Linked DNA regions of Homo sapiens: region 2 is linked to region 1. The links come from fine-mapping of genetic effects on gene expression. Tissue or cell type: spleen. Region 1 holds a variant in brackets; the other region holds the start of a gene. All regions are shown on one strand. Distances are from middle to middle.

Evidence for each region. PIP is the estimated chance that this variant, and not a neighbour inherited with it, causes the effect.
Region 2: MMRN1 starts here. The variant in region 1 is fine-mapped to the expression of MMRN1 in spleen (GTEx, PIP 0.99).

The regions. Positions count from the first base shown.
Region 1 is chr4:89,867,932-89,884,099 of GRCh38, reverse strand. It overlaps a transcript of MMRN1 not described here. Among named protein-coding and RNA genes, the nearest start is that of MMRN1, 19 kb to the left of the region's middle. The variant G/T (reference allele first, on the strand shown) is at 9,447.
Region 2 is chr4:89,888,398-89,904,565 of GRCh38, reverse strand. MMRN1 (multimerin 1) reads right to left here and starts at 9,712. Exons shown (of 8, transcript NM_007351.3): 1 at 8,972-9,712. The coding sequence starts at 9,594. RefSeq lists a silencer at 6,061-6,261.

The DNA of each region.
Region 1 (16,168 bases):
ATAATATTGGTGTAAAAATAGAAAAATAGAGCACCGGGACAAAATAGTCCAAAAATCAATCTATACCAATTTTGGACAAAGGTACCAAGTCCATTCAATGGTAAAATATCTTATTAAATAATGATACTGGAACAAATACGTGAATTTAAAAAAATGAACCTTTACCTTGAACCCACTCCAAATCCAAAAATTAATTTGAGATGTTTCATAGATTTAAATATAAACATTAAAACCATACACCTTGTAGATGCAAGTATAAGGAAATGTCTTCATGGTCTTGGTATAGAGAAAGATTTATTTGATAGATACGGAAAACATGAACCTTTTAAAAATAGTTGAAACACTGCATCTCCTCCAAATTTAAAACTTTAGTTTATCAAAGGACATAGTTGAAAACAAATTGGCAAGCCACATCTTGGAGGAAAATAATAGAAATTTAGATATTTGAACAAATTACTCCATTCAAAATATAAAATGAATTCTTATAAATTAATAATGAAAAGACAAGCAATCCAATTAATAAATTGTCAAAAGCCCTGAACAGACACATCACAAAGGAAGATACACAACTGGCTAACAGACATGTGAAAAGATGTCTCAGCATCTTTAGTGATCGGAGCAAAACAAAGCAACTAAAACTACACTGAGATACCATTTCACACCCATTAAGAGACCTAAAATTTAAAAAGCCTCATAGCACCAAATGTTGGATGGGAGTGGAGTGAAGCAATCAGAACTCATACGTTTCAGGTAGAATAAAATGGTACCACCACTTTGGAGAATTGTGCAGCAATTATAAAGTTGAAAATTCATGTCATCCATGATTCAAGAATTTTGCCTGAGATACTTACACAAGGAAAATAAAAAATGTGTCTACAAAAAGACTTGTTCAAGAATATTCGTAACAGCCCAAATATAAGAGAATATCAAGAGAAGAAGATATAAACAAGGAATGGAATATTACACTCATACAATGAAATAATATTCTGCAATGAAAAGCAATGAACACTGATACATGCAATTACATCTATGAATGTCAAAAATCAATATGATTACTGAGAGATTTGAGATGAAGAATAATGCTTATGTTATAGTTATATTTATATGAAGTTCAAGAGCAAGAAATACTAATTTACAATGATAGAAATCAGAAGGAAGTTTCTTCTGGGGAGGAGAGGAGGAAAGATTGATTGGATAGGGACATGGAAAGTATTTCTGGGATGATGAAAATATTTTACATCTTGCTTTCGGTTGTAGATTCTGAGTAGAATGCAATTGTCAAAACTCATGAAGCAGAACACCTAACAGCTGTGCATTTTAATGTGTATATATTACACATTAAGTTTTTAAAGTGAAAGAAAAGAATTTAATGAAAATGTAATAAAGAATGTTTGCCTCTTCCTATCATTGTATTCATCTTTCTTAAATCAAGTATTCAATCTTTTGCTTACTGAATACAACATATATATTCTTCTGGACAGCAGCGATTATCTACAACACAGAGAGTCAACTTAAATTGAACTGACATTTATCAAAGATGTAATATGACTAGGACATTAAATGGAGGAAAAAAATGCAAAAGAGCATTAAGAAAACTTCACTGTTAAAAGTGTTCAACTAAAATTTAAGTTTTCTAAAACTAGATCAGTAGTCTTTCTATACCTTACTCTGTCTTCATTCATGTCCTCTTAAAATCACCTAAATGCACATAAATTTAAAACTGAGAAGATTTTTTCTAATTTTATTAAAGAAAGAAAAAATGTTCAGTATTGTTCTTAAGATTATATATATTTATATATATACTGTTATACAAAATAATATTGATAGAAATGTTTCAATATTAGGAACATGGATTTATAGAGACAACAACAATAAAAACTCATAGGAAGTAGTTGAATAGCAATCCAAATTCTCTTTTTTACATGACAAAACCCACTTAAGGTAGTAAAATTAAGAGACAACAATATCCCCCACTCCATATCATAGTAATTAAATTAAAGACGTATGGTCATTCTAGTGAATGTGATTGTGATACATCAACATCACCAAAATACTAACGTAATCTTTCTGAGAGGGTTATTTAGCTTAAATTTAGAGAGACCCCCGCTGCTGACAAACTTTCATTAGTAATAAATTTAAGGTATAGATATTGGAAACAAGTGTTATGATCAAAGTGAAAATACAAAATAGCCCAGAAAGCAATTTACATTCATCTGAAATATTTTCAATAATAGTTAATGCATACGTTATTACACTAGACTCATTACTGTTTAGCTCTGAAAGGCTAACTATAAGTTTAAAGGTAGTGCAACCAAAGCGAATTCAGTACACAACTTGCAACAATATATTAATGAATTGAAGCAGGTGTACAGCACTTAATTGGGCAAAAATATGAATCAATACTAGATGAATCAATACCAGAGCTGTAGTAACAGTACTGACTAGAAAAGACTTCTTCCATTCACCATGGGCACCTTTGACAAACACAAAACGGCTTTAATGAATATTAAATAATATTCTTTAATTAATATCAATAATATTCTATCATCCTTCATTTACAAGAAAATGAAAAGGCATATAATTCTTTTATACACACATTAGAATTCATACAAAATGAGAACACCTGCTTTTACAGTTAGAAGAAATCATTTTTAACAAAACAAGTACATACAACATTCATTCTCAACTTGTGGAGATTTTGTATGTCATGACTAGAAAACGGCCACATTCTGTTGGAGTCCTTTAACACCTCAAAATAAGCAGGTCCTACATTTAAGAAATGTGTTACAAATGTATTTGCTTAAAATTTACAAATGTAGTTTGAGTTTTGAAGTAAGTATGTGCCAGATTGGAATTTAAACTTAACTAGATGCTAGCATATGCCCCAATAAAATTAAGAAGTTGCCTCCACTGGCAGTTAATTTGTTGCTTAGCTTACTGTATGCAAACTGTGTTATCATTGGTTAAATTAAAGAAATTAGTCACTGAAAAAGTTCCAGTGAATACAGGCAAAGCAATTCTGCAGATTTGCATTAAAGGAGCCAACAAATGCCTTACCCTTAATTTATCAGTGCTTCTGCTACTAAATCCCAATAGTTATTACATTTATCGACTTTATGAAAGCACATAGTTTTTCTCACATTTTTATGGACTTCTTCCCTCTCAACCCTTTAACATTTCTTTTAGAATTACATGCAGTGCAGTGTAGAAAGAAATATGAGGATCAAGCCTGAGACTGTTTTTTAACATCCCTGCTGTCAGGGATTGCTGGTGTGGTCTTAGACACATCCCTTGATCTTGCCAAGCCTCAGTTATCTCCTCTGTATTCTTCTTCCCATGATTACATGGGTCACTGCCTAGGACTGTTCCATACAATGTAAAGCGAGATATTGGTAAAAAGGAGAGATGTTATATAAGAAACCAAAGCTATAATTTATCAATTCTTAAATGTCCATTATGTTTTCTCTCCTCTCATCATGAGAAGGGACTGGACTCATCTATCCTTGAATTTCTTTGATCTTCAAGGCAAAGTTATTCTTACTCTAAGCACCACAGAGCCTTCTATGTGACTCACCTTTTCTGTAAATTCTTGTTGGACAACTTGCAGATTTTCTGAATTTTCTGATGCCAATAGAAGGGCAGATTAATACTGATTTCCTTCTTTAGGTAATTATAGTAGGTAATGGTTAACTCTTTGTGCACTGATTTTGTGCTAAGCACTCTATTAAGTGGCATATAAGCTATAATATCTTTTTTAATTTCTCTAAAACTCTTGTGACATAGTGACTCAGAATCCCCATTTTAACAAGCAGTCAAGTAACTGCCCAAGATATGGCAGCTGAGAGGGGACAGAACTGCCATTTAAACCCAAATCCTTTTACTTTAGGGCTTAAACTCAACCTTCTCCCCCAACTTAACTGATTTCATGTTTTAATTTAGATTCTTAGAAATTGTGTTGACACAAAGAAGTCAATTTCTGCTACATTAGAAAACATGTAAACAGCTAAACCAGAGTTTGACTTCAAAAGAAAAGCAGGCAGCTATATTTGTAAGTGCACCAATTGTCCTCCCCCAGGGTTTCTATACCCAGAGCAGTCAGAATATCTGTAAAATTAAAACCAGCATCATACCATGTCCAAAAGATTAACAGTTCCACAGTACAAAGTTTGTTGATTTAGTAGTGGATTCAGTCTGTCAATCAAAATGCCATAAACAATAACATGATAACAGTTTTCAACATAAATGCTTTTCTTCAGGCTATTTTCACATGTCTTGTTGAATTCTGCCAGAACATTTTCTCTACACATTCTTACTGCATTCTAAGTGCCCATTATAAAGGAAAATTATGCTTTTTTTTAAAGACAGTGTATGTTACACAAAGAGCTAAACTACTAATACTTGAAATAGACCTGTAATCTTATTTGAAGAAACATTAACAAAGTTCTATCTTACAAAAATAAGCAAATGTTAATTTAAAAAATTATCGGTAGCTCTTACCTTAATATTCTTTGCCCGTGGTTATAACCAAATGCTAACATCAATAGAAGCAGAAACCTCTTGGCCTCTCTGTAGGCTGTCTCCAAATATTCACTTATTTTCAGAAGCAGAGAAAGACAAGTTTGAAGAGGGCGGGGAGAAAACCACCCTTACAATAGCCCTGCCATTATTCTCTCAGTGAATGCCTAGCAACAGAAGTCCAGGGACCTAGAAACTAAGATGTCTGAGGGCACTGACCCCCAGCCTGCCTCACGTCCTTTCAGTGTAGCTAGGATCCTAGAGCTCTTACTAAAAAGTGTTATACAACCTGAAGGTTTAGCTGCCACCATGATTAAAGTGTTCAGAATAATGTTACGGCTAAGATAATTTTCTCAAAAATATTGATGGTATTATATCTTCTTGATTAACAATACTTCAGCCAGTACTGAAAATAGGCCTAATAGATAAATCTTATACATTAAGATTTAAATGTTTAATTCCACCCAGTTTAGAAACTAAACAAAAAAAACATGGAAGCTGGGGTAATCTCCTGCTCTAACTTTTTGATTAACAAGATTATTGCAACCCTGGATTACATTCCTGAGAGCATTTCATAGTCACCCACAAGTCATTGATAAAATCTCCAAGACTTAGCTAAAATATTTTATAATTTCTTATACAGCATCTTTAAGTGGATGGAAAATGAGTTGCCAGAGTTTGTTTCATAAGAAAACTTCAGTCAGCTCTAGTGAGCTGAATCTCTTGTACTTAGAGTCCTTCTCTGTTGCAACATTTGTCCTATTTCTTCTGTTGAGTAACCAGACCTTCCTCTCCGAATTGGTGGTGGGGAGGGACTTGTGCTTTTGTTCATCATTTTAATACCAAAGGTCCAATCTTGCACATGACAGGTGATTGATAAATGTCTTGAATTGAAGTGACTTCCTATTTGCTTTTGTAGCTCAAAGTGGTGGAAGCTGTGACATAAGTTTGAGTTCTTCCCCACATGTATTTTGCTCTCTTATGGATTTTTCACTGATCAGCTAAGACTCCCGACTAAGCACATTGTTCATTGTTGACAAACAGTCTCCAGGCTGTTCACTGCTGAAAAAGTCTCCAGACTTTGCACATTCAGATCCCTCTGCTTGAACCCTTTTGAAAGGCCGAAGTGCCACTGTATCTAAATTTCAGCGAGTTTTAAAATATTATACTTTTGAGAGACAAGACAGAGTCTATACAGAGGAAAGAAAAACTAGAACATGGTGTTCTTTTTTAAAGTGAAGCAGGCATTCCACTAGTTGTTTTGCTTTTATAAAATGAGTAGAACCATAACATACTATCATAAATCTCTCTCATAAAATAATACAAATTCTATCATAGAATTCCATGCAAACATGACTTACCAAATTCATGAACAGCATTGAGTTCAGCTCTTCTCTACGTGGCCCTATCCTATCCTATTTAGAGTCAGGGTACATAACTTCTTAATTGCTTTATAAATAAATTATCCCATCACAAGTAGACTAAATTAATAATGAGTTATAAGTCAAAATATTTTTGCTTTGACACTAATGTTTGATTAAACATTACCTTTTAAAATAAATTATGCTTAGGTGGATATATTTTCACATAATTTAAAAAGGCAGATATTTATAACAGTAATTATCCAGCAAAATAAAATATAAAATTATGTTCATATTTTAATGTATTTTATTAATACATTTTATATTTTTATTAATGTTGCTGTAATTTCACAGCAACATAAAACACAAGTCTGAGAATTCAACAGAGAGCACTGTGTGGCCATGAGGCACAGTATCAGACATGACAAAATTGAGCTCACCATGTGCTAATTATTAGAGTAAAATTCGTATCTTTACTAAAATATTACAAAAAATATGAAAACAGCAATGCATAATTTAATACACAGTATATTATATGTAATATAATATCTGTAGAATTATATATTTAGCATATATAATATATAAATATATATACATAATATACACATATAGCATATGGAATACATACATAATTTAGTGTATGTGTAGTGTGAATGCACATATATATATATATGTGCACACATACTAAATAACACCAATAAAATATAGGAAGAAATAAGCATTTTAAAGAACAAGGAACAAAAAATATAAAGAGCTATGGAAGTTTTCAGAGGTTTCTTTTCATTCATTCATCTTTACAAATGAGTGTGTGTGTATGTGTGCACGCGTGTGCACGCACGCACGTATAGAGAAAGAGAGAGAATCTCTGCTTGGAAAAGTAAGCGTCAGAAGGCAAGAAATGTTGTCTTTTATCCCATCACTGTATTTCTAGAAAGTGGCACATTTCTATGTTTTATAAATAATTGTTGAACGAATGCTAAAAGCAGTTCTCAAAAACTAAGTAACGCCACATATTCTGAAGCCCTTTTTTGTGTGTGAGATGGAGTTTCCCTCTTGTCACCCAGGCTGGAGTGCAATGGCTCAATCTAGGCTCACTGCAGCCTCCGCCTCCGGGGTTCAAGCAATTCTCTTGCCTCAGCCTCCCGAGTAGCTGGGATTACAGGCGCCCTACACCACCCCTAGCTAATTTTTTTTATTTTTAATAGAGATGGAGTTTCACCATGTTGGCCAAGCTGGTCTTGAACTCCTGACTTCAGGTGATCCGCCCTCCTTGGCCTCCCAAAGTGCTAGGATTACAGGTGTGAGTCACCATACCCGGCTTTTTTTCTGAAGCCTTTTACATCTCTCAGTATTACTTTTTCTTCTGCAGCCAGGGGTAATTTATGGAAAATGTTAATCAGAGTATGTATGCTCCTGTGTTTGTTAAACTTTTATCTTCCCGTTGTGTCTAAAACATTGCTCAGATTCTCAGGCACGAAGTGGTCTTCTTACCACTACAATTGCATCTTCACACCCACCATTTCCTTTGCCTACTAGGTCCCAGCCACACTGGCATTCTTCAGTTCTCAAACTTGCCTTTTAGTAATTGAACATTTTCTGCTCCCTGCCTAGAAATCTATCTTCCCTTCTCCCCATGGCTGTTTCCTTCTCATGGTTAATTCTCAGCTTATATAACTCCCTCTTCTCTGTAAATATCTCCTTAAAAACAATATATTTCACAATTATTCATTTACTGCTCATTTCCTTCCTACCACATATCACAATTAGTTGTTCCTTTACTTATTACTTGTTTTCAATCATTCTCCCCACTTGAATCACTAAATTCCATAGTGGCAAAGGAACATATCTATCATGTTCATTTGTTTGATCATACTGCCTGGTATGATATTTTACATACAGTAGGTGCTTAATAAATATTTAAGTGAGTGGTGAAAAGTAACCTTGAACTCCCATAGCTCTTCATTTGTATTGTGCTATAAGCACTTCATTCTACCTTGTATTAGAGTGATTTGGAATGTAACTGGAATGTAAGGTCCTCCATGAGTCCAGTGCATATGTTTTGATTTCCTTCTTTGTCTCCTATAGCACTGGTGACAGATATTGCTAGCTATTTGCTGTGGTAGATGATGTGAATTACTGTACATGCAACTCCCAGTGTCACACTCTAAGACACTCTATAATTCTGCTGGTGTATAGACAGACGTACTAATACATTTGAACTTGGAATTGAACATTATGAAACTTTGGTTTAGGACACTGAGTTTTTTTGGTAGATGGAGGTGTGGTCTCTTTGTCTGTAGCAGTACTGGCAAAGTATCGATAATCAAGTTCATCTAACTTTACAATCTTCATTTGCCTCATCTGCCAGTAATACCTGCTTCATGGAATTATTACAAAATGTAAATAAAATAACACAGAATTTAGCAAAAGACTTTCCATGTAGAAAATATTTAATAAATGTTAGATAAAAACATTATCAGTAATGTCTATTTTCTCTCTGTCTCTGTATATTACCAAGCAAAGGCTCTAGCTTAGGAGAGAGAATTAAAGCATCTATTTGAGATATATGTTTGAGTGGATATAATGACTTATTTTTGTATTTAAGACAAAAATGAGTTGAAAGTAAAGATTTTATTTATGAAAAAAATCCATAGAACACCTTTATGAAAAAGAATTCAAGGATACTTTTGCCATACTGAACTACTGGCAAGAAAAAGATATAAAACATAAAAAAAGATATTAAAAACCTTATAATTAACATATATCCATGAGAGTGGAAAAAAATCAGTATTTTACATTTATATGTAAAATATTGCATATATATGTATATATGTACATATGCTGCAAAGGTGAAAAAACAATTCTAGATGCTGGAAATTAATTTTATAATCCAACGCCAGTCAGGTATCTGCCTTTATTATGAAAACTATATGGTGACTTGAATATCTCAGAATTTTCAAGTATCATCTTCCAAAAATCTCTCTCTCAAATTTGAATGAGACAGATAAATTCACCATCAGTAAGCATATGATTGTTGGAATAGAAGGATAGGATGGTTAATTAAAGTTGAGTCTCTTCTGTTCAGTTTGGGTTTGGAAATGTGCATTGGAAAATGACACAAAATCATATTTTTCTGGGATTTGATGAATGGCGTGATCAGCACCAAATCATTTTCTACCCTCCTTACATCAGGTGATTTGCTATTGAAGAGTGTTTAATAAAGGAAAGCCAAACTCAATACATATATGAAAAGAAGGAAATGCTATCATTGATTTTGAACTAAGAAAGGAGAACAGTTTTTATTTTTATGAAAACCTTATTTAACCTTTAGGGAAATATATAAAGAAAACATTTAAGGCTTTGTAAAAATCCTGACAGATTTTATTACTGAGTGTACATGTGGCCTGAATCAAATGTTGCTTTGTAAACGTGTTGAAATAATGTTGGAACTAAGACCTGACATTACTAATTGTAATAGGTTGAACAAATGCTTATTTGAAAGAATACTGGGTCTCCACTTACTCCTGCTGGGACCATTTTCATTTTCTGTGCTCTGTCATCATCACCTGG[G/T]CTGCTTTTGCTATTTTCTTTTCTCTAGCTGTTTCATATAATGTTTAAGTGCATCTAAGCTGTACCTATGTGAGCTAAGTCCTCTATGATTAAAAAAAAATTGCCGATATGTGATTTAGATGATAGTATAACAAATTAGTTGTATTATTAATAATAATGATGAGAAAAATCATACAAATGCATTATTTGGGTTGTGCACCTTTATTTGAAGTCATATATAGTGTCAATTTTAGAGTATTTATAATTATAATTAACTGCTCGATTATCTCCTTAATTTAATATTCAAGAAATATTAAAATATTTTTAAAATAGCATACACTTAAGGCAATAGTACAAATACAGTGAAATTGTCATTTCACTTTAAGAAATGCCATCAAATTTGGGTGTTGATTCAAACAAATCAATTGCAAAAAGACATTTTGAGAAAATCAGAAAAATTTAGTTATGGACTGAGTATTAGATAAATAGGAATAATTTGATTTAGTCCCATGTGATAATTTTGTAGATATATAAGAATATGGCTATACATTTAGAGATGCATGCTGAAGAACAGAAATCCAGTGATATAGAATTTCTTTAAAATACTTCAGCAAAAGGAAAAAAGATTTAAAAACACAATTTTGTCAAAATTGTGATACTTTCATTTGGGTATTGGGTATATGGGAATTTATTATTTTCTTTTTTTCTAAATTTTTAAAATGGAGAACTGAGTAAATAGGCAAAATCTATGAAAAATTGATTGCTTGGAAATGCATAAAAAATAAATATGACAGTCGTTTTGAAAATGCCATCCATTTGGCTTCCACACTGGCTGCTTTGGAGGCTCTTTCCTAAGGACCCTTGCAGAGGCCGTTTCTTCTCTCAGAAACACTCTTGCCCAGGTTTCACAGGGCTCTTCCAGAGGGCTTGCTCCCTCACCCCTTCAAGTCTTTCTTTATTTGTTACCTCATTGAGCTTTTCCCTGATTATTTTATTTACACAGTAATACCCACCACCCTCCCCTAATGTTCTGTATATGTTTCCTTGCTTTATTTTTCATATAGTGCTTATTATTGCCTAATACACTACACAATTTACTTTTTTTTTTTTTTTTTGACACAAAGTCTGGCTCTATCGCCCAGGCTGGAGTGCAGTGATGCTGTCTTGGCTCACTGCAAACTGCCTCCCGGGCTTAAGCCATACTCCCACCTCAGCCTCCCCAATAGCTGGGACAACAGGTGTGTACCACCATGCCTGGCTAATTTCAGGCTGGTCTGGAACTCATGAGCTCAAGTGATCTGCCCGCCTCGGCCTCCCAAAGTGCTGGGATTATAGGCATGAACCACTGCGCCCAGCCACAATTTACTTTTAATTGTGTATATTATTTGCCCCCCTCCTCAGTAGAATGTAAACTCTGTTAAGGCAGAATTTTACTTCTGCTCTAGTAACAGCAATATTTCTAGTACTTGCTGAATAAAGTAATAGGACAGATTCTGAAAGATGAGAGAGTAGCTATATTTCTGCTTGTGGTTACTAGGCAAAGGTTTAAAGAATGAAAAAAAGGTATTGAGGGAAGAAAGGCAACATTGCAAATGTGACTCACAGCCCATATAGGCCAAAAAGTGCAGAAATATTCCCTCGTTCAAAAATATCTCAGAGAACTTCTCACACCCTAAAATTTCATTTAGATTCACAAGTTCTGCTTTAAAATAAGCCTTTTGGAAAATTAAACTTTTATTTTCTTATACTTCATGATGAAAGTTTAGATAGTTGATTCTGTGACAATCAAGAAATGATGAACGTTTTAATGGGAATATGATGAAAGATGAGACCATGTTGGAATATACCAGGTGAGGTGGTGAACTTTAGACAAATAAGCGCTAGAAAATGGATAGAAAGGATGAAGTGGCGGTGAGGTTCTGAAGTATGTATAGTGTTAATGTTTAAGTCAATTATAATTTTATAACAAAACTCTATGTTTAAGAAATTAATTCCTTTAAAGGCCGAGGCAGGCAGATCACTTGAGCTCATGAGTTCGAGACCAGCCTGATTTCTAAAACCTGAAATCAGAATACTTATTCTGTTTTTAAAATGTATAAATGTGTAATCTTGCATTTTATAGACCTAAACTCTGACTGAAATAGCCTTATTTTTTAATGTCTTACTGTTTTCCAAAATTGTGCACCTAAATGTATGCTTGGGTTGTCTTACACCTAGATGCTGAGACAAGATTTTCATCACCTATAATTTTGCTTCATCTATTTAGGCACCTCTTTCAATAAATATCAAACAGAGACAAAGTTCCTTAGTAAGAGATGTTTAATAAAAAAGGGATATAGAAGGGAAAGAGAAGAAGCAACAATAAAAAAATATTAAATGAAGATAACTAGTCACTTAAAAAGCTCTCTTGTTTTGGTTTTCTAAACTGCTTTTTGACTAGTTGGCAGTGTGTTTGGGGTAAGTTACTGGGCCTATGTTTTGTTAGATATAAACTGAAGGGGCTCCACTCATGATCCCTAGATGCTGAGACAAAGTTCCTTAGTAAGTAACGTCAATGATGTCTTCGAAAAATTTTAGCAACCTGTCGTAGGTGACAAATAGCCAGAGAGAGGGAAGGCCTGATGTGTATCACTTACCAGTTCTGATCAATTTCCACTGTATAAATATTCCCTCTGTGGCTACTTTGGTGGGCTACCAACATGATCCTATGAAATAAGATTTATAATTTAATTCCATTGTGTTCAGAGAACATGTATTGTATGAGTTGAATTTAAAAATATTTTTTGAGCCTTGTTTTTTGGTGCAGGATATGGTCTATCTTGTAAGATGTCCAATACACATTTGAAAATACTGTTTATTCTGCTGACATCAGGTGTAGTGTTCTAAAAATATCAATTAGATCAAGTTGATTGATAGTGTTATTTAAGTCTTTTATATCCTTACTGAATTTCTGTCCACTTATTTCATATATTGTTAAGGTGTGTTGAAATCTGTAACTATAATCATACATTTGTCTATTACTCTTCGTAGTTCTGTTAGTATTGGCTTCTTGTATTTTCATGTTATTAGATACCTGGAATAGGCAGAATTCTAAGGTGGTCCCCAAGATCTTGCTCCCTGATGTGCATGCCCTGTATAATCCTTGGAGATTATCCTCAGTGAACCTGGCCTAATCAGGTTAGTCCTTAAAAGGGACAAAGGTTCTGGTGAAAGACATTCAAAGTATTAGAAGAATTCCATGTGAGAAGGATTCCTTGTTCCTGGCTTTGAAAACAGAGGGGGCCATGTGGCAAAATAGAGTTGACCTCTAGGAGCTGAGTGACCTTCAGCTAACAACCAGTGAAGGAATGGAGACCTCAGTTCTATAACTGCAAGAAATTGAATTCTGTCACAGCATGCGGGCTTGGAAGAGGCTCCTGAAATCCAGACTAGAATACAGTCTAGCTGCCACATTGATTTTACCTTTTGAAACTGAATCGAAAATGTTATGTTGAGGCTTCTGAGCCACAGAACTGTGAGCTGATAAATGGGTGTCTTCTAAAGACATTAAGCTTCTGGTAATTGGTTATGCAACAAAACAAAACTGATACAGTGCATAAACATTTTAGATTATTATGTCCTCTTCATTAATTGAACACTTTATCATTATGAAATCATCTTCTGTATCACTGGTAATAGTCTTTGATATGAAATCTGCATTGTCTTATATTTAATATGTCCATTCCACCTTTCTATGATAAATGTTCGCATAGAATATCTTATTCCATCTCTTTACTTGTAACCTAATTATGTTTTTATATTTAAATTGGATTTACCGTAGACAGCACGTAGTTGGGTTTTACTGTTTTATCTAACCTGATATTGCGTGCTTTTTAATTGCAGTGTTTAGACTTTTACATTTAGTGTGATTGTTACATGTTGAATTTAAGCCTCCTGTCTTGTTGTCTTATATTTGTCCTAACCGTTCTTTGCCTCTCCTCTTTTTTTCTTTTCCTACCTTCTTTTGCATTAATAGAGTATATTTTATGATACTACTTATGATTCTCCTTTGTTGGCTTATTAGCTATAACTCTTTATAGACTCATTTTAGTTTCTGTAGGGTTTATAGTGTCCATCTTTAACTTATTACTGCTTACCTTCGAGTAATATTATACTACTTATTGTAAAGTATAAGAACTTTACAAAAGCATACAATTTAAAATTACCCTTAGAATGACTACAGAGGACAATCTAATTCTAAAAAGGAGTTTACAATTTCACGTGTAAATTTAATAACATTGGAAAACACTGCCTCAAACTAAGTTGAAATAAGCTACTATGAAATGTTAAACTACTTCTGTGAACAACAGCATTAAGAAAGTGGTCTGAAATGTAACCCAGGCTAAGGATCCTTCTGTAACATTGCAAACTTAAATTGTTCAGAACTTTCCTGAATTTCCTTTTATCTGTTAGTGTGTTAACAATTTTATTATACCAACAAATCTGTTTGACAAACTGTGGAGAAACAGTGACAGAGATGAAGCAATAAATAATGTGTATATGCAATATATTAGCTTATTATGAAAAAAATAAAATAAAGTTCAACATATTTCTTTGAAATTACAAAGCCTATTATAGAATTGTTTTTTTAAACACTGAAGTAAACACTTAAAATTTTTAGTAGTAAATTGATCACAAAAACCAATCATGTGTAATTTGAACTATCTTTTTTCCTTGTAAATGTAATGGGAAATGTTCCCTTGTCCCCCTTGCCAGGGCGTGCGATGGGGGTGTGGCTTGCTTCTTCTTAATAAAGGTATTCTTTTACTTTTCCCTGTATCTGTAAGATTAATTACATAAAACATTTGAAACATTAGGTGTATTTAAAGAGAAGAAATTATAAAATTCACATTATCATAAGTTAAATATTTTGAAATATTAATTTTATTCCTCCAAGTGTAAGATATATATTTATGTGTTGCCATAGTCACATGTTTACTCATAGTTGAATTTAATCTACTTGTGTTTCTGAGGCTAAGAATGACTTTTTTTAATTAAAAAAGAAAGAAGAATAGGAAAATTTTTTTAGTGAATCTAGAATTATCTTCATTATTTGGAACTAAAAGCCACTCTTATCTTAACAATGGAATGTAAATTAAGGTGCATTATCTTTCAAAACTGAAAGTATCTTTATCTCTGATATCTATTATTTTACTTATTATTTTAAAGCATAATCTGAACTAGGCATATTTTTAATAGTTGCTAATTTTTAGGCAAATACGTCATATTTATAACAATTTCAAGATTCTACATGTTAATCAGTATAAAAGAGATGACAAACGCCTTTGTATGTGGAAATACAGCATGAACAAAGCTTTGTAACTTTTTCTCTTGAATAAATTGAGAACATGGACAAAATTAGTCTTAACCTTTTCTTGAAAATTAGTAGAGAAAGAAATTGTAGCTTTTAAGGGCATGCAATTTTGTTTCTAAACAACAGATGGCACTATCAAATTCTAGATTTACTAAAAATTTTTTCTATTTTTCTCCCTTTTTTAAAATTAAAGAAAGTCATAATAACTGTCTTAGCTTCAGAAACACAAGTAGATCAAATTATAGAATTACAGCCTTTACTGGCATTCAATCTTGAAGAACAATATTTGTAGGATCTTGAATAAAATACTGCTTTTTCAAAATTAACACTTGATGGTAGTTAAAAAGCTGTTTGATCAAATTTTAGAAGTATTAACATCAAAACAAATGAAATCAATGCTCATAATTGATTTACACCAATAGCAACTGAATTCTCCACTTTACAACTAGGATATTCTCTTCTGAGCATCAGTAGAGATAAGGATGTTCTGTGAGGGAAGAGGCTGACCTGGACTACACTAGAACTGAGTAGCCTCTGGGAAGCCCAATATCTGACAGTCACATAGAACTTAAAATGCAAATCAGGTCAAATAATAAAATGATCAATTTGGTTTTTTTTCTTTCCCTCAAGAACTATAGTCAGGGTAGGACATTTGGAGACAGAGCTGAGAAGGAAGAATGATTTTTAAAAATGGTTTTGTTCTCACAGAAAATAAATGCCCCAGTCTGGTATAGGAAAAGCAGACTCATTTATTGTAGAATTTTGCTATGGGCATGAGTTCTTTGGCAGGAGTGCCTACAGTCAGCAACTTTATCTCCATGACTCCCCTATTCTGGTTCACTCCATAACTGCCAAGTAAGGCTGGAGGTAAAGTTGCCAATTTCAACCATTTATTTATCTATGTGTTCTCTTATATCCTACTCTCAGCAATCCTAGTGAAATACCAGTCTGTTGTATCAAGTATTCTTTCTTAGAACAACCTTCTAGAAATTTAGCCTAAAATATTCTTGATCTCTCATTATCCCATTTCTCTTCTTTATATCTTTTTTCTTTAAAAAAAATTCAAACTTTTTCTCTCTAATGTCTTCTTTATCACTCAAGAGTAATTTATCACATACCTTTGTTCTCCTTACTTAGCAAAGTATTAATAATTTATCCTTTTCCATTTTTCCTACATCAATCCTTTCAAATTCTTATTTTGCTTGACAAAATAGATATGGAATATAACTAACTCATTTTAATCTCACTTAATATTTTTTCCACTTTAGGATATCTCTTTATGTGTAGCTTGGAAGAGCCCCCTACTTCAGTTTATATGTTCGCTATTTTTATTTCTCTTCTGAACTTAGATAAATGGATTATTCAATTATTTTGAGGGTACTATGAGCAA
Region 2 (16,168 bases), 20 kb before region 1:
GAAATAAACAAGACACAAAAGGACAAATATTGTACAGTTTCACTTATATGATGTACTTAAGTGGTTAAATTCATAGAGACAGAAAATAGAATGGTGATTGCTAGGGATGGTAGGGAGGGTGCAATGGGAAGTTATTATTTAATGGGTACAGAGCTTCAGTTTGGGAAGATGAAAACGTTCCAGAAATAGATGGCAGTGATGACTGCAAAACAATGTGAACCTACTTAAAGCCACAGAACTGTACATTTAAAGACGGATAGAATGGTAAATTTTTTAATGTATATTTTACCACAATAAAAATAAATAAATACATACATACTGAAAAAAATGCCACACAAAGTGAAAAATAATAATTTTGCATATCTCTTGTCAAAATCAGAGAGAGTTGAAGAAGAAAAAGTAAGAAATAGAGCAAAGGATGAAAAAATAGGACAAAATAACAGGAAAGGGGAAAAGAAGAGAGGAGGAGGGGAATGAGGCATTTCTGGCAACATCAGAGTTGTCATCAATACATGCTTTTTTCACCTCGTAGATCAGAATTAGAAGGTCATTTCTGATGATGAAGTTCTGCCTGCTGGACAAGATTTTTATTCTCCTTTTAACTGCACACATAGGTGTGAATAAAGAAGAGAGTGTATTTCTGTGCCTAGAGTTTTTTTTTTTTTTTTCTAATCCTGAATTAGGCAAGGGTGAGGGGTGGGGGCAGTGGGCACATCTGCATAAGCAAAAGAAAATAAAGAAAAATTTCCCTGAAAAATTTCCCATAACATAGTTCGTCGCTGGAGCCAGGCTACCTGCTTTTAGATCTTGACTCCACAATTTATAGCCATGACTTTGTCTGGCAAAAGTGACTACCTCATCTACGAAGCATCTACAATAATATTATCTACCTCACACGATTGTCGTGAGACTAAATGTTTTAAGAAAAGTAAAATATTTGCTGCTATCACTGCTTATAATAATTAAATGATTCAGAGTTAAGCGGGATTTTTTTTGAAGAGGATATATATAATATGGCCTCAATATTTTTTTGCCTCAGATACAAAGAAACACAGCTCCTGTTTTGCTTCTTTAATGACCTGATAAATTCATCTTAACCATAATTGCTTGTATGTTTCAAGTCAATAATTTCCATAAAGCCAATACAGAAGACCATCATCATCATTTATGTTCAATTCAGATGAAGCTTGCCTCTCAGGAAAAAAAAAAAAACTTTCAGAATGTCTCTACAGTCTTAAGAAGTCATGAACATAAATACTTCCAAAGTGTTATAGAATCTATTTATTGAAATCTTTATTTTTTCCAATCAAGCTAAAAAGAGAAGTTTTTAATCAAATTATTAATTTGAAAGACTATAATTTGCATGTAGTTCACTAGTCATAAATGAGAAAATAATTCAAGGGAAATATATACATGAAAAAAGATAATAAAAATGGGAAGCAATAATTTACACTTAGTGAAAAGATTCTTGATATGTAAATTATATTTAAATAAAGCATTAGACATTTGATATTTAGCTTTGGCTAAAAGTCCAAAAGACAAGTTCATCTCAATATTTATTTCCTTAAGAAAATCATTGTTTTATTTCCTAACAACAAAATAATTTATGTTTGTGGTTCTTTTATTGTAGTGTATCTTTCTATGCTTAATCCTTTTACAAAATTTTATATAGTATTCAAACTGAGATAAAAATATCAGTTTTGTAAAAGAATCATATAAATAAATTGATATTTAAAATAATTTTTTGAAAAGCAATTATGCAAAGCTCAGATTATGGGGAATTTTAGATACTTTGATTTATGGTTAATTTAGACTTTAAGAAGAAACCCTTTTTTATGTACCAACTTTTGCAATTAAAATATTTTTGTCAGGCATAATTTTATTTGCTTTCTGTAGTGGGAACAGTGTGGTGAATGTAATTGAGTTTTCAATGATAGATGACTGTAGAGTGCCTCACAGCCACAAATTACTGTCTATACACAATATTGTCAGTGTAAAGTTTTATGAGAACGAGCCGAATGTATGGCCATCACAGGATGTACATAGAGTTTGCTGTTTGGATCCAACCTATTTTCCAATTTTAAAGTGAAAAGTAGTATATTTTTAAAGTGGTACATCGAATTAAATATGTATAACATATATATTTTATAAGTAATGATTCTTAAAGTCAACCTTTAATATAACCTTTTCCATAAATTTGTTTTTTTTCTCTTCTATAACTTATTTATTTATTTTTTTTATTATACTTTAAGTTTTAGGGTACATGTGCACATTGTGCAGGTTAGTTACATATGTATACATGTGCCATGCTGGTGCGCTGCACCCACTAACTTGTCATCTAGCATTAGATATATCTCCCAATGCTATCCCTCCCCCCTCCCCCTACCCCACCACAGTCCCCAGAGTGTGATATTCCCCTTCCTGTGGGAATTGAACATACTCTTTTTTACCTAATTTTATTTTTTGTTTCCCCCTTCCTTGCAAAACTGTGACTTGAGCATATTCCGGGCGTTGTAAACTGTTTCTATTCCAGTAGGTGTCAGGCTTTCCCAGCGTGCAGACCACAAAGGCAGGCTAACGGATGCCGTGATGCAGAATTCTATGCTTAATCCAGTTCCTGTAAACTGACTCTCTTAGCATTTACCCCCAAATAATAAATTTAAAATTATAGTTTTATATTCAGAAAAGCAGAAGTTGTGCGAATACAAAAAGTTCCCACTTAATTATTAGGAATATATAAGCACTCATTAAATTCTAGCATATGAAATGCAATATATATTTATAGTAACAGAGTAGAAACAGCAAAGTAATGAAATAAAGAATGTGATTAATGGGTAAAAGTTGATAGAGAATATACTTTATGTAGTGTTTATTTCACTGGCAGTAATGTAATAGAGACATCTATTTCACAAAGATATAAGAAAATACCCTTTAGTATAATGGTTTCTCTTTAGAATTTAACAGCATGTAAGAATAACCCATTTTGGATGTTATTAGGCCTAATAATAACTTTGAAAACAACACAAGAATTTAGCTGATCAGATAATTCACTTCTAAAACCTATTCATAATTCACACAAAATGAGCAGAAAAAAAGTATGACAGCAGAATTTAATGGTTAATTTTTGTAATTTTCTAATTTGTCATTAAACTCAGAATAATTTTCTAATTTGTCATTAAACTCAGAAATAATAATTTCTAATTTTCTAATTTGTCATTAAACTCAGAAAAAAAATCCCTCTTTTTCTGCATATTCAAATTTTACCTTCCTCTGACCCTTCTCATTAACATGTTAACATATGTATGAGCCCTCTGTATTTAAAATGAAATATTATAAGAAACAAACACAAAACATAAATAACTGGACTAGCCTTGGCTTCTGACCACTTTCTCCTTTTTTTTTTTTTTTTTTCATAAAAGCCCTCCTTAATTGAGTTGGCTTTAATGGCTCTCTTTTGCCTTCCTTCATACCTCAATTCTCTCAGGCCAGAGCATGGTGCTCACTAAACTGAAATAGTGGCTATTTTTCAGTCCTCATTTTGTCTTTTTCAGCAGCATTTCACACTGTTGATCACTTACCTCCTTCTTAAAATATTTTCTTCCTTTGCTCTATGACACCACACTTTTATAGATTCCTTCCTAACTTCTCTGGTCACCCCATTTAAGACTGTATTGTTGGCATCCACCACTATCAGTTCATCAAATATTAGAGATTCTCCGTTCATAATTCAAGGTCCTTCTTTCTTTCAGTATCATCCACATTCATGACTTAATACATTTCTATATACCAATGCTTTGCCAAATTTATATCTCTAGCCTTGATCTCCCCTCTGGATGCCAAACCCATCTAATAATCCATGATTTTACAGAGTTTTATTGAGCTCTTTCTATGCACCTGGCACTGTTCTAGGCAGCAAATAGAGTAGTAATAAGACAGGCAAGGTCCCTGTTTTCATGGGATGTATTGCGGAAAGACATAAAATACACCATTGTCTATATAAGTAGAATAATTTCAAATAATTCCTACAAAGAAAAAAATAAAGGTGACAAAATAAGGAATGGCAAGTGAGAGCATAGTTAACTTTACATTGGGTGGTAAGAGAAGGTCCCTTTGAAGAGGTGACATTAAAGCTGGAGGTGCAAGTGGAAGAGGAGTCCTTCATTATAAAAGGTGCAGAAAGAGCATTCCAGCAAGAGCAAAAAAAGTTTCCTTTGAGATATTAACTTGACATGTTCAATAAACAGAAAGGAAGCCAGTGTGGCTGGAGGAAATGAAGTGCAGTGATCTTGGAGTGTGACAATGAATGAAAGACCAAATTTCACACATTTTAAGACATACATCTCTGAAATCAAGAATGTGTCTTGAAATCAAAGGCATTTTTCAGTCACTAGTGGTCAGATAGCAGTTGTTGCCATTGCCTTCGAAATACTTTACCAGTTTCATTTACATTTCCTTCTTAAGTTTGCAAAAGTGATATGTGACCAAAATCTCAAAGTCTGAAAGACAAATCTAAAAATTCAAATTAAGCAAGTATGATGTCATACTTTTCCTTCTGATTAGTACCTAAAATAATGTGTCACTTACAATAATGAAGACTTAATCCAGTGAAATGCATTAATCTGACTTAAATGTTCAAAAGATCCCTCCCTTTTGTGGATCATGGATTATGGTAGACAAGAGTGGAAAGAAGTGGACCAATTAGAACACTAGTGGTGAATAACGGCAAGTAGAAGATGGAGAGAAGTTGAGGTATTTGGGATGTATTAGAGGTGTAACAAGACTTTTTGATAGATTAGATAAAAACCAGAAGGGAGAGAAAAATGCCAAAGATCTATCCAAGGTTTCTAGTTATGGAACTAGCCATTCACTGATTTGGTAAAAATTAAGATACATGTGTACAGGGGTTGGGAATTGTGGGAAAAGCTAAGTAGGCAGTTAGATTGTATCATTACCTCATTTCACCTATTATCCTCTCAGGCAAGGTTTACTGACCCCATTCACAATTGGTAGGCCATTCCCCCCATTATACACTACAATTTCTTAAGCTTCATTCAGAATCAGCATTTGTGATTCACTGTTATTCCTCCTCTCACCTCTGCCACTGGGCTGTTGGTTCCATAAGGCAGGACATGTAGGAGTTCTTGTTCATTGTTTTACTCCCAGCACAAGCACAGTGCTTGGGACAGATAAGGTGTTCAGCAAATATTTGTTCAACATATAAATACACTAATCCTAATTTCTTATTTCCATCCTTCCTATTTCAAAGTGCTTGGTCATTGACTAACACCCACTCTGCCAGACAGGAAACCATAGGTCTATTTTGGCCAGGAGTTCCTGCAAGGCTAAAAAAAAAAAGAAGAAAAACTACAAGATGAAACAAAAATATGCCAGAATAATCCTGAATAATCTAGAAAAGAACCTGTAATAAACATAAATACGCCTTTTACTAAGAATTATTATAAAATTCCAAGAATGGTAGAAAAAAGAACAAATATGAGTTTATTCTAAATCAACCAGGTTTTTTTCATAAACAAATGCAAATATTTGGGAAGCTTTCTTCTTTATATTCACATATTAATCCTCATATTTCACATTCAGTATGATTAAATATTGATTGTGTACCTGCTATAAACCAGAGACTTTGCTAGCTCTGAAAATAAGTCCCTATATGCAAAGATACTACAAATTCATTATGATTATTATGTAGTGTCGTAAGTGCAGTGAACAGGGGAATTCAAAGAGACCTGTAGGAGCGATTAGAAAGGCCACCTAACTTCACCTGAGAAGGCTTCCTGGAGTTATTATTAGGTGTGAAAAGAGAGAACGATGGCAAAAGAGGGCCCATTGTTAGTCACAGGGGCAGACAGGGAAGAAAGGTGGGTTTAACAAACAGCACATATTGTACCAGAGAACCACTTATTTGAATAGCCGGAAGTGGCGGAAGATGAGGTTGGGGAGGTAGGCAGGAGGCAGATCTAGGATGGCATCGTGTGACTAACTGGGTAACAAATCTAGATTGTATTCTGGAGGCAACCAATAGCCTGTGAAGCCTCACGAGCTGGGAAGTGAACTGGTCACGCTTATCTTCCCACTTGTGATAAGAGACTGTACCTGCCAAGGGAGTGTAATGTAGGAGCTGAGAGCTACAACTCTAAAGCCAGCCAGCTTGGATTTGAGTCTTTGCCCTGAGCTTTGTTAGCCAAGTGACCTTAGGTAAGCTACTTAATCCCTCTGTAAAGAAATAATGATAAAAATCTTCCTCTTCTTTATGGAGTTATAGTAATGATTAAATGAGTGAATATATTCACTGACAATAGTAGAGTACTAGTAACAGATGCCATATAAGTGTTTGCTACTATTATTATTATTATTTGCCAATCAAATGAAAGTACGAAGGACTTCTTTTGACCATATCAAGGGTTTGCAGCAGCACTGTGTCCAAAAGTGAAGGACCTAGGCTTTTCTCTAATGCCATTGTCATTTGCATGGCCTAATGAGTAAGGAATCTTGGTAATGGAAAGGATTACTAAAAGAAAACCTCAGGCTCTCCAGGACCTCAAATAAGAGAATCCCTACATGCAGTTAGTACTTTTCTATAGAAGGAGTTTAAGATTATTTTTGTTAGAAAATCCAGAGGATAAAGTTCTGTTCAGCAAGTTATACCTTTAGTATCTTGTTTTCTCATAGCACATATTAACATTTTTTGAAGTCTGATAGGTATGTTAGTGTTTACTTTTTATAGGGAATATTCCTTAGACAGAGGAATTATTATTATTTTTTTAAATTCTGTGTAACCCAAAGCCTAGCACAGTGCTAGCACATGATGGGCAAATTATAAATATTCATCAAATTGTTCCCAACATTTGAAAGCAAGGACCTTGGATAACACAACTAGCATTTATTTAAAAACTAGTATTTATCAAACTATTAGTTACTAGTTCTAATTATGACACAACTGTATGCCACTTTCTATATGGTATGTAAAATTTAAATGCTATTTTAACTTGAATTGTCTCTTTTTTCTGTTTATTATATTTCCCTTTCTATTAAAAAATTCTGGCTGGGTGCGGTGGCTCACGCCTGTAATCCCAGCACTTTGGGAGGCTGAGGTGGGTGGATCATGAGGTCAAGAGATCAAGACCACCCTGGCCAACATGGTGAAACCCCATCTCTACTAAAAATACAAAAATTAGCTGGGTGTGATGGCACACCACCTGTAGTCCCAGCTACTCAGAAGGCTGAGGCAAGAGAATCGCTTGAACCTGGGAGTCGAAGATTGCAGTGAGCCGAGATTGTGCCACTGCACTCCAGCCTGGCAAGAGAGCGAGACTCCGTCTCAAAAAAAAAAAAATTCTTAGCTATAGCATCTCTGAAAAGCTCACAATCGTTTCCCATGAATGTCCAAGGGTTTTACTGTAATTAGTTTTTAAAAATTTAATTACAGCCTCTAATAAAATATGATTAACAGAAATGATGCATTCAAGTGATTTAGAAAAAGCTGTCAATAAATGACATTTCTGATTATTTAATAGATAAAATCCTGTTGTCCCCCAAAGTGAGAAAGATTAATGCATGTCTGTTAAATGTTTTTTTAATGGCAAATCTACTTGTCCCAAAGTGAACATATTGTAATCTGTACTATTTGTTTTACAGTAAGCTGGGATTGTTCCAAAGTCCACCAAGTGAATACTTTTTTAGTTACAATCAGATTTACTTATATATTTCGAAAAATTCTATAACTTTTGAAATATAGTGAAAAATAGACTTGAATAATAAATAATACAGAAATAAGTAAATTCATTGGCTAGAATTCTTACCAGTGTCTCTCTTCTTCTCACCTTTATATCAGCAACAGCTTTAACTAAATGTCTTTCACATAGCAGGTGTGTCAACTTCTATTTTTAACTTGGATTTTATTTTATTATTAGTAAGATATTTAACCCCATTTTGCTCCCAAGACATGTCTGGTGTCTTGACTTTGTATTATTACATGTAAAAACTATTTGTAAGTTTAGTTTTGCAATACTAAACTTCTAGTATTCCAAACATACAGATGACTCTGAGCATTAAATGAATAAAATATTGACCCACCCAGATATTTTTTCTTTGTTTATTTTGATTTGACTATCACTTCTTTTGAAAACCCTCTTTAACAACACTCCTTTAAATTTGTTTTATTTTATTTCAACCACTCAAATTGCTCTAACTTTAAATTAAAATTAATTTGAAAAATAAGTTTTCTGATTCATCATATTCATGATGGCAACACAACTCAAAATAATCATGGTACTAGCAAAATTTGAGTTGTTGAGCACCTATTCTGTGAGGAGCATGCATCTAAGCACTTTTCATTCATTTTTATCTGAACGAGAACCCTGCAAAGTTTTATTTTTATTGACATTCCTTGTATTAAATCTGTAGTTTCCATATGAAGAAACTGAGGTTCACAGACATCAACTGAGTTGCTCAAAATCATGGAACTAGACCATACTGAAGCCAGGATTGCACCCCTGGTGTGCTTGTTTCGATCTTTGACAACTGTTACTTTTTATAATACTGCTATTCCAATTTTCACATCTGTTCAAGCCCCAATTTTATTTATTTGTTTATTTTTGTCTTTCATATTGTGAATATGGTTGGGAACACAATCAACATATCCTTGAATTAAACTAACAGCCACCGTGGTGCTAGTTTGCTTGGCAATGACTATTCTAAGTAAAACTACCTCTATAAGTGAGTAGAAAAGTGAATGATTATTTCAGTTAAAACAAAATTGCTGCATTTTATTTCTTCATTTTTCCCTATTAGATAAATTAACAATAACTTTATCTAACTGAAATGGTGAAATTATAAATATGATCCAATTTCATCTTGAATTTGAAATAATTTTCTGGGAGTGAGGTAAATTTCACTTGCAATCTTCTAGACCTGATAGACAGAGAAAGAACAAAAAGAAAAGAAGATTTCTTACTTTCCTCTAGTTGTTTCGAAATTTGATTTTTGGTAGTCAGTTCTTTGGCTGGAACTGCTGTCACCCCGGCTGAGGTATGTTTCCCGTGGGGCTCGATTTCCCACGCCTCCAGTGCCTCCAACGCCTCCAATGCCTCCAGTGCCTCCAACTGTGTTTAGAGAAGTTGCTTGTTCATTTGACTTTCTGGCAAAGCTCTGAAGAAATTTCAGTGTAGAATTGGAAAGGACCACTGATTCTGCTCCAGGATTGAACTTGATGCTAGCGTTGGTTGGGAGGGTAAGATTCTGTAACTTGACCACTCCTTCTGCTTTCTCTGTGGATGTGAGAGTTTGATTTCTCACACCCTCAGCAGGTGCACTTGTTTCTGAGGGAGGCAGTGTTGATTTAAGAAGACTGTCTTCAGAAGTTCTTGCCTCTGGAGTTGTAGCTATCTCCGCCGACATGACCCGAGTGGTTGGCAGTATTTGCAAACTTTGTATTTTATTTGGAGGAACTGAAGCAGAAGGCATAGTCTTCTGAGAGTTCCCATCCTCAGGTATAGTCCAAGAATGCTTACTGTTGTTAAGCCCAATGCCCCCACTCCATAAACTAGAAAGAAGGACAAATAATCTTGCCCCCTTCATCTCAGTAGTTTGAAGCAAGGTAGCTCATGTGAAATTTGGGGACAAAATCCTTATGGCCTTTTTGATAGCTGCTTCCACACTGAATCTGCTAAGACTGAGTTTTGCCAGTTTGAGATGTGTAGAGGAAACAGGTTTCTGTGTTTTGTAGCGTACTCAGGAAGTTCGGTTTCCTGTTTCTGTAGGGTTTTTGTGATCTGTGACCTCTAGTGGGATGGCTCTATGGAAGTGCTGAAGGGTCTCTGACAAAGCTAAGGGTAAATGGGAAAGCACAGGCAATTATTATCAGGAAAACCCATGAAAAAATATGAAGTAACTTTCTTTTCCTGAGCACACCCTGGTTTCACGTTTCACTGATTTCAAAGAGAAATTTCAGGTTCACGATAGAGAGTGCAAAATTTTGTTGATATAGGCTGAATACAGTTTTAACATTTTGTTCTACTACATAAAGACACTGAGAAAAGTTTTTATGATACTTATCTGCTGTGCTCTATCCAGAAAGCTGCATTTTGTTCAAGTGTATATCCACATGCATACACATAATCAAAAGCTTGTTTACAGTGTCTCTATCCTTTCATATAGTACATATACTCTGAATTATAAAACATCTATCTACATACATGTATATCTTTCTATTTTTATAAATACACTTCAGCTGTATCATTACTTAATCTCAATGATTATAAGTAATAACAGAAAAGGAAAGCATAAGTAATTGAATTAGACAGGTATACCAGGAAGTCACTTTAAATTTTGCTCCTGGAACTTCTACCAGAGATACCCACTAATGGAATAAATAATCAGAATTTTACTTCCTTTATTTTCCAATCACGATTGTCTGATGGTTGGGGGTAACCAATATTTTACTAGTAAGGGATAGATGAAGAAAAAATGGAGTCACATAAAAATAAATTAAAATGGGATCATATAGAATGCTTTTATACATTTACTGTAGGACAAAATTATGCCAGTTGTAGGTAGCAGAGAACCAGATTTATCTGAGTTTTCTATGGGTTTTTTTCTGGTAGAGATGTTTCATGAGATTTATCATTTAATTTCTCCAGCAAATCTCTGATCCTCAGATTTCAATTAACCTCTTATCTATAAAATTTCATATCAGTCTGTTTAAATAGATATACAAACTAAGTTATAATAGTTCATTCATTCATTCACTCATTCATTTATTTATGTATTCATGAATTCAGTAGTTACATAACCCCTCATTCTGTGCAAAGCACTCTCTTATGTGCTAGGATTATAAGGAAAACAAAAATATTCTTTGCTGTCAATTTGCTAAATGTCTGTTATGTTATTTGGAAGCTAAATCCATGTGTAACCCATTTTTCTGTCAACTTCTGTGCCAGGCATTATGCTCTTGCTAAATATTCAGTCATTGATTGTTAAACTATTATTAGATTTTATTTTTTGTTATTAGATTATTAAGTTCCGTCTTTCAAAATTAGAGAATTGGAAATCTAATGCCTGCTTGGTTATGTTTTATTGTAGATATTTTCTCTAGTCCTTATTCCTGGACACAGTGCACCAGGATTTGAAATAAGGCCTAATTCTTCCTTGAGCTACTAACTACTTGGGATTAATATTTTTTTCTTCCCTCAATCTTTGCCATTTATTTCCGTAAGTGTATTGTTGACCTACTAGAGAGTATTTATTTAAACTAAGACAATCATCAGCAACCCCAATCGACTCTGATATGGAGTAAAAAGCATCCGTTTCTCAGATATACCACAGAACAATCCACAAACCTTGCCTTAGTAAAGGAGCAAAAAGGTCCAGCAGAGACAATCCAGGAAACGATTAGTTACTAAAAAGAGCAAAAGAGCAATGAAACTGCACAACTGTCACAATACAAACATGGTTTTCAGTAGAAAGAAAAAGGCTTTACAGTGTCTTTATCTGGAAAACACAGAAGAAACTAGCTTTGGCTTATGGAAGAGCAGTAATTTCATAAAATTTAGGAAAAATGTTCCTATTTATATTCAATTTTACACCAATTTTCCTAGCTTTAGTAAAAATAGATGAATGGACTGTCTTGAAGATTTACAAAACTGCCAAAATAATGACATTCACTGATTTTTTGTTTTCTTCTACAGTTTGAAAGACTGTTCAAACCTGGTCTGGCAAGTGAACTTTAGTGGTAAAATGTCACCCATTGGATCTATAACTGATAACAAATAGTTATCCAATGATAATAAAAACTGAACAAAGCTAAGCAATTCATTTAACCACTTATAAGGTATTGACCAATAATGACTTTTGCTCACCCCTATCCTAGCTTACAAGGGACCCTGAAATCAAAAGGCTAAAGGTTCTGTATCTCACTATTGATCTACTAAGCCATCTTGCACTTTAACTCCCCAGAGAATCTCAAGCTCATTTAGTGATTTTGGGTATATGGATCAGCCCTTAATTAGAGGTATAAAATACTCCAGAAATTGTCAGAGACCTTGTCTCAAATTCTTCTTTCTGAGACTAATTAATACTCATTAAATAACAATTAAGAAAAATAATATTGCTGAGATGACTGGCTGAAGAGTACTCAGTTTACTCATTCTTCTAGATACTATTATACTAGATACTAGATACTAAAATACTATTGTTGGATTAAACTATATCATCAGTTTTGTATAACTGGACCCTGTCATTTTGCTATACCTCCCATTTCCCACTTGGTTGTTCATATTAAATTATGTTTTACCATCTTGCCATTTGTTCACCATGAATATTTTATAAGATAAAAATCATGAAATTTATTATATTATGAGTTATCAGGAGATTTTTATGTCATTTTTCATTGTATCATAAACATAGGATTCACTATATACTGCAACATGGGTTGTCTGTAGGTGATGAGATAATGGGTTTGGTTCTTTTCCACCTTATAATGCATATGAATTAATTTTCTAACCACAAGAAAAAAAAACAAAAAAAGATTATTAAGTTAAAAGAAAATATAAATGTGAGTTAAAAGAGAATCTTAGATTGAGGAGTTCACTGTAGATGGTGCTGTGTACTATTCAAAGCATTTTTATAGCTGCAAGACTTATTCTTTGTAAAATGTTGGGGGTATGGGCTAACTTCCACCAGATTAATAGGATTTTTCAGCAGCTGTTTTCTTCATTTTTCACATGAGAAATTCCTATTTTCTTAAAATAGTTTAAAACATCCAAAATATGATTTCATTATTACCTTCCTCCATAAGACATATCTGTCAAAAAATAATAGAAGAAAACAAATTTTAGAGCTTTTTCAATTTAATGGTGTTTGAAAAATATTGAAAACCTGTCAAATTTACATGTGGACAAAGGGGGTTATCAACATACAGCAAAAGGGCTGGAGAAGAAGAGAAACTGATTTCTGCATGATTTTGATGAGTCGATGTGCTAGGTAAGTTAAATTTGGCATATTATTTAATTCTTACAAACATGTTAGGTAAGTATTCTATTCTTGTTATACTCATGGGAAGTTAAACTTAAAGAAGTTAAATAACTTCCTAGGGTAACACATTAGTAATTGTTAGAACAGATATTTATGCCCAATCCTGATTCAATAGGTATTCGGTAAATATTTGTTGAATCAGTGAACGAATAGATGAAGCTATGACCATACTCCTATGTATAGTGATAACAAATGGGTTGAAGAGGGCTCTATTTCACATTATTATAGCCACACAAAAGAAAAAAAAAGTAATCTAAATAAATATAATGAACTTGTTCCGGGAACACACCTTCAAAAGTCTTCTGAAATACCCATTCAGTCAGATTGCCTCCTGTAAGTTACTCCTAAAGAAAATTCAGAAAGCCCATTGTTTCTATATTATCTATTCTCAAAATAAATATGAGAAGGTTTATTTTGAAGCCGTCACAGCCACATTAGAATAATAAACCAAAGACTGGGAGTTGTAGAATAAAAGATAATGAAGCAGTAGTGATGCTAGAAAAATTTAAGATAAGCAAATAAATTGGAAGTAAGAAAATTTAGGTTTGAGTGGGCTGGCAGGAAAGGGAAGATGGACAATTAATGAATTATATAATTCTTAATATTAAGTGAGAGAAACATATTAGTTTATCAGGAAAAAAAAACAACATATTTGTCCTAATATTAAAATTTTAACTTTATAAGATCATAAGGAACATACTGATAAAGATGACCAAATGCCCCTCATGAGAAAATGAATGTAAGAATAGTTCACAAAACCATGTCATTGCTGATTTTATATTTCCCATTTACGCAGAACAGTACCCTTGAAGTGAAAGAGTTCAAAACGCATTTCTTTTGATCATTTTAGAAATAACCATATTTTCATTTTCTTAATGGAAAGCTGTATCTGGTTATCAAGTGATTATCATTAGTGACTTCCACTTCTGGAAATATGGAATAGACATATCTCCCTATTCCTTCTGCTAAGTACATCTGAAAATATGGACATTATATATAGAAAAAATAGAATAAGACTCTGAAGAGTGGAGAAAAGAAGGCAGAATGGCTAGGTGACCCAAGGAACAATGAAGCACTGAGTTCCCAAGTTTACTTTTGCCTCATTTCTGGGTACTGGAGAATTTGGCAAACTAGGAACGCCAATGGGCAGAAACAATAAAAGCCCCAATAAAAGCTCTCTTTAGGCCAAGGACTAGAGAATTGTCAGCCTGGAAAGAAGAGAAAGTTTTTAGAAAATAACCACTCTACTCCCACCATAGAGCACAGGGGAAAAAAAAAAAAAAAAGCAAAATAAAAGACAAAAGAACCCACCCTTGCCAGCAAAGCCTGAAGGGAGAATTAAACTTCCACCTCATGAGGTTATAACAAGGTGTCCCAACCCTCATTCTTCTGTTGGGGTAGTCTCAGAGAAGGCCAACAGAGGAGCCAGAAATTTCTTCATCAAGAAGCCTCGCCTGAGTACACTGCCATGGCTCTCCAAAAGCTGAGTGAAAAGAAAAGAATGAAAATCAGTAGCTTCAAGGCATGGCAGGTCTTCACTGAGTGACTTTGGAGGAAAGGTCCTCCAAAGGCTAGAGATAAGGCAAGAGGTTGGAAAGATGTCTTCCAAGGTATAGAAATGCAGGGGTGGGTCTGGAAAGAAATGAGAATGTACTAGAGATTGTTTTAAAAATGATTTTTCGTTGCAAGTAGAAGAAGATTTTTCATTGTAAAGTAGTGTTTTAATCATCCTCTCTTCACCCCATTGGTGAGGGAGGAATTCCCACCCTAAGGTTATAAGAATGGGTGAACACATGATGTCTAGTGTTGAATTGATGAGATTGGAAGCAGTTTATACATAAACTAAAGCCCTGGGGAAGAGGGCACAGCACATCACGCAGGGCCACACCAGGGCTGCACTCGGGAATACAGTGAACAATCAACAATGCTAGAAGGCGGACTTTGTAATATCAAGAGTATGAGGTGTCCCCTGGCTCCCACAGGCGGATGTGACTGGCTTGTTCGAATAATTCTGTGGGCTGGCAGGGAACTGAAACCTACTACTCAGGGATAAGCAGGAACTATGCCTGGTCCCTTTGATAAGGCAGTGGATACTGGGCTGGGGACCTTATCCACAAGAGCAGAGTGGGGAAGGAAACTTTTGGGTTAAGGCCCTCGACGCCCTCTGGTTTCAGATGTCAAGACGGCACATAATTCTGTGTCTTAATTTTAGGCCTCGTATCACACACAGTTCAGAGAGCTTTTTCTCTGTATTGTCAAGGATAAAGAGCTCTCCAGAGCTTTGCCTGTGCTCAGATCTCAAAATTAGTTGAAAGGAAAATCCTTATCACGTCCTCAAAGTATTTTAAGAGCGTGGTGAGTTAAAACTTAATGCTACAACAATTTTGGTTTATATTAGACCTAGCTCAATTACAAATTGGGATAACTCAGCTCCTACACTAAACGGCTAACAGAATAAGAATGTCCTTCTCTGAGGTAAATATTATTTACTATAGCCTTTATTATTCTTTTAAGCATAATGCCTCATACAATAAAAATTGTAAGACAAATAAAAAATAAGAAAATGTAATTCATGGTCAAGAGAGAAACCCTAAAAAAATCAAGAAAACACCAAGATATTGGAAGTATAAGAGAGAGAATTTCAAATAACTATGATAGAATGTGGTATTGAAGATGGGCAACATGTCTGAACAGAACGGGAATTTCAGCAGAGATAAAAATTATTTTTTAAAAAGTTGAATGAAAATGCCAGGAATAAGACATATCAAAAATGAAGAAGTCATTTGATAAGCTTGATAGCATACTGGAAATATCAAAGAAAATAAGCAGTTAGCTTGAAAATAGGTCAGAAGAGATTATCAAAACTGAAACACAAAAAAGATGAATATGTGAACGAAATACACAGTGTCGAGATCTGTGGAACAATTTCATATGGTTTAGCACACCTATAAATGGAGGGAATAAAGAAGAAAAGAGAGACTAAATAGGACAAAAGATAATTTTTTAAAGATTTATAGGTAAGAATTTTCCAAAATTGATGAGACACAATTGATGAGTTATCAGGAAAAAAAAAAACACGCCATATCACATAAAGGGGAACACAATTATAGCTAACTTTTCA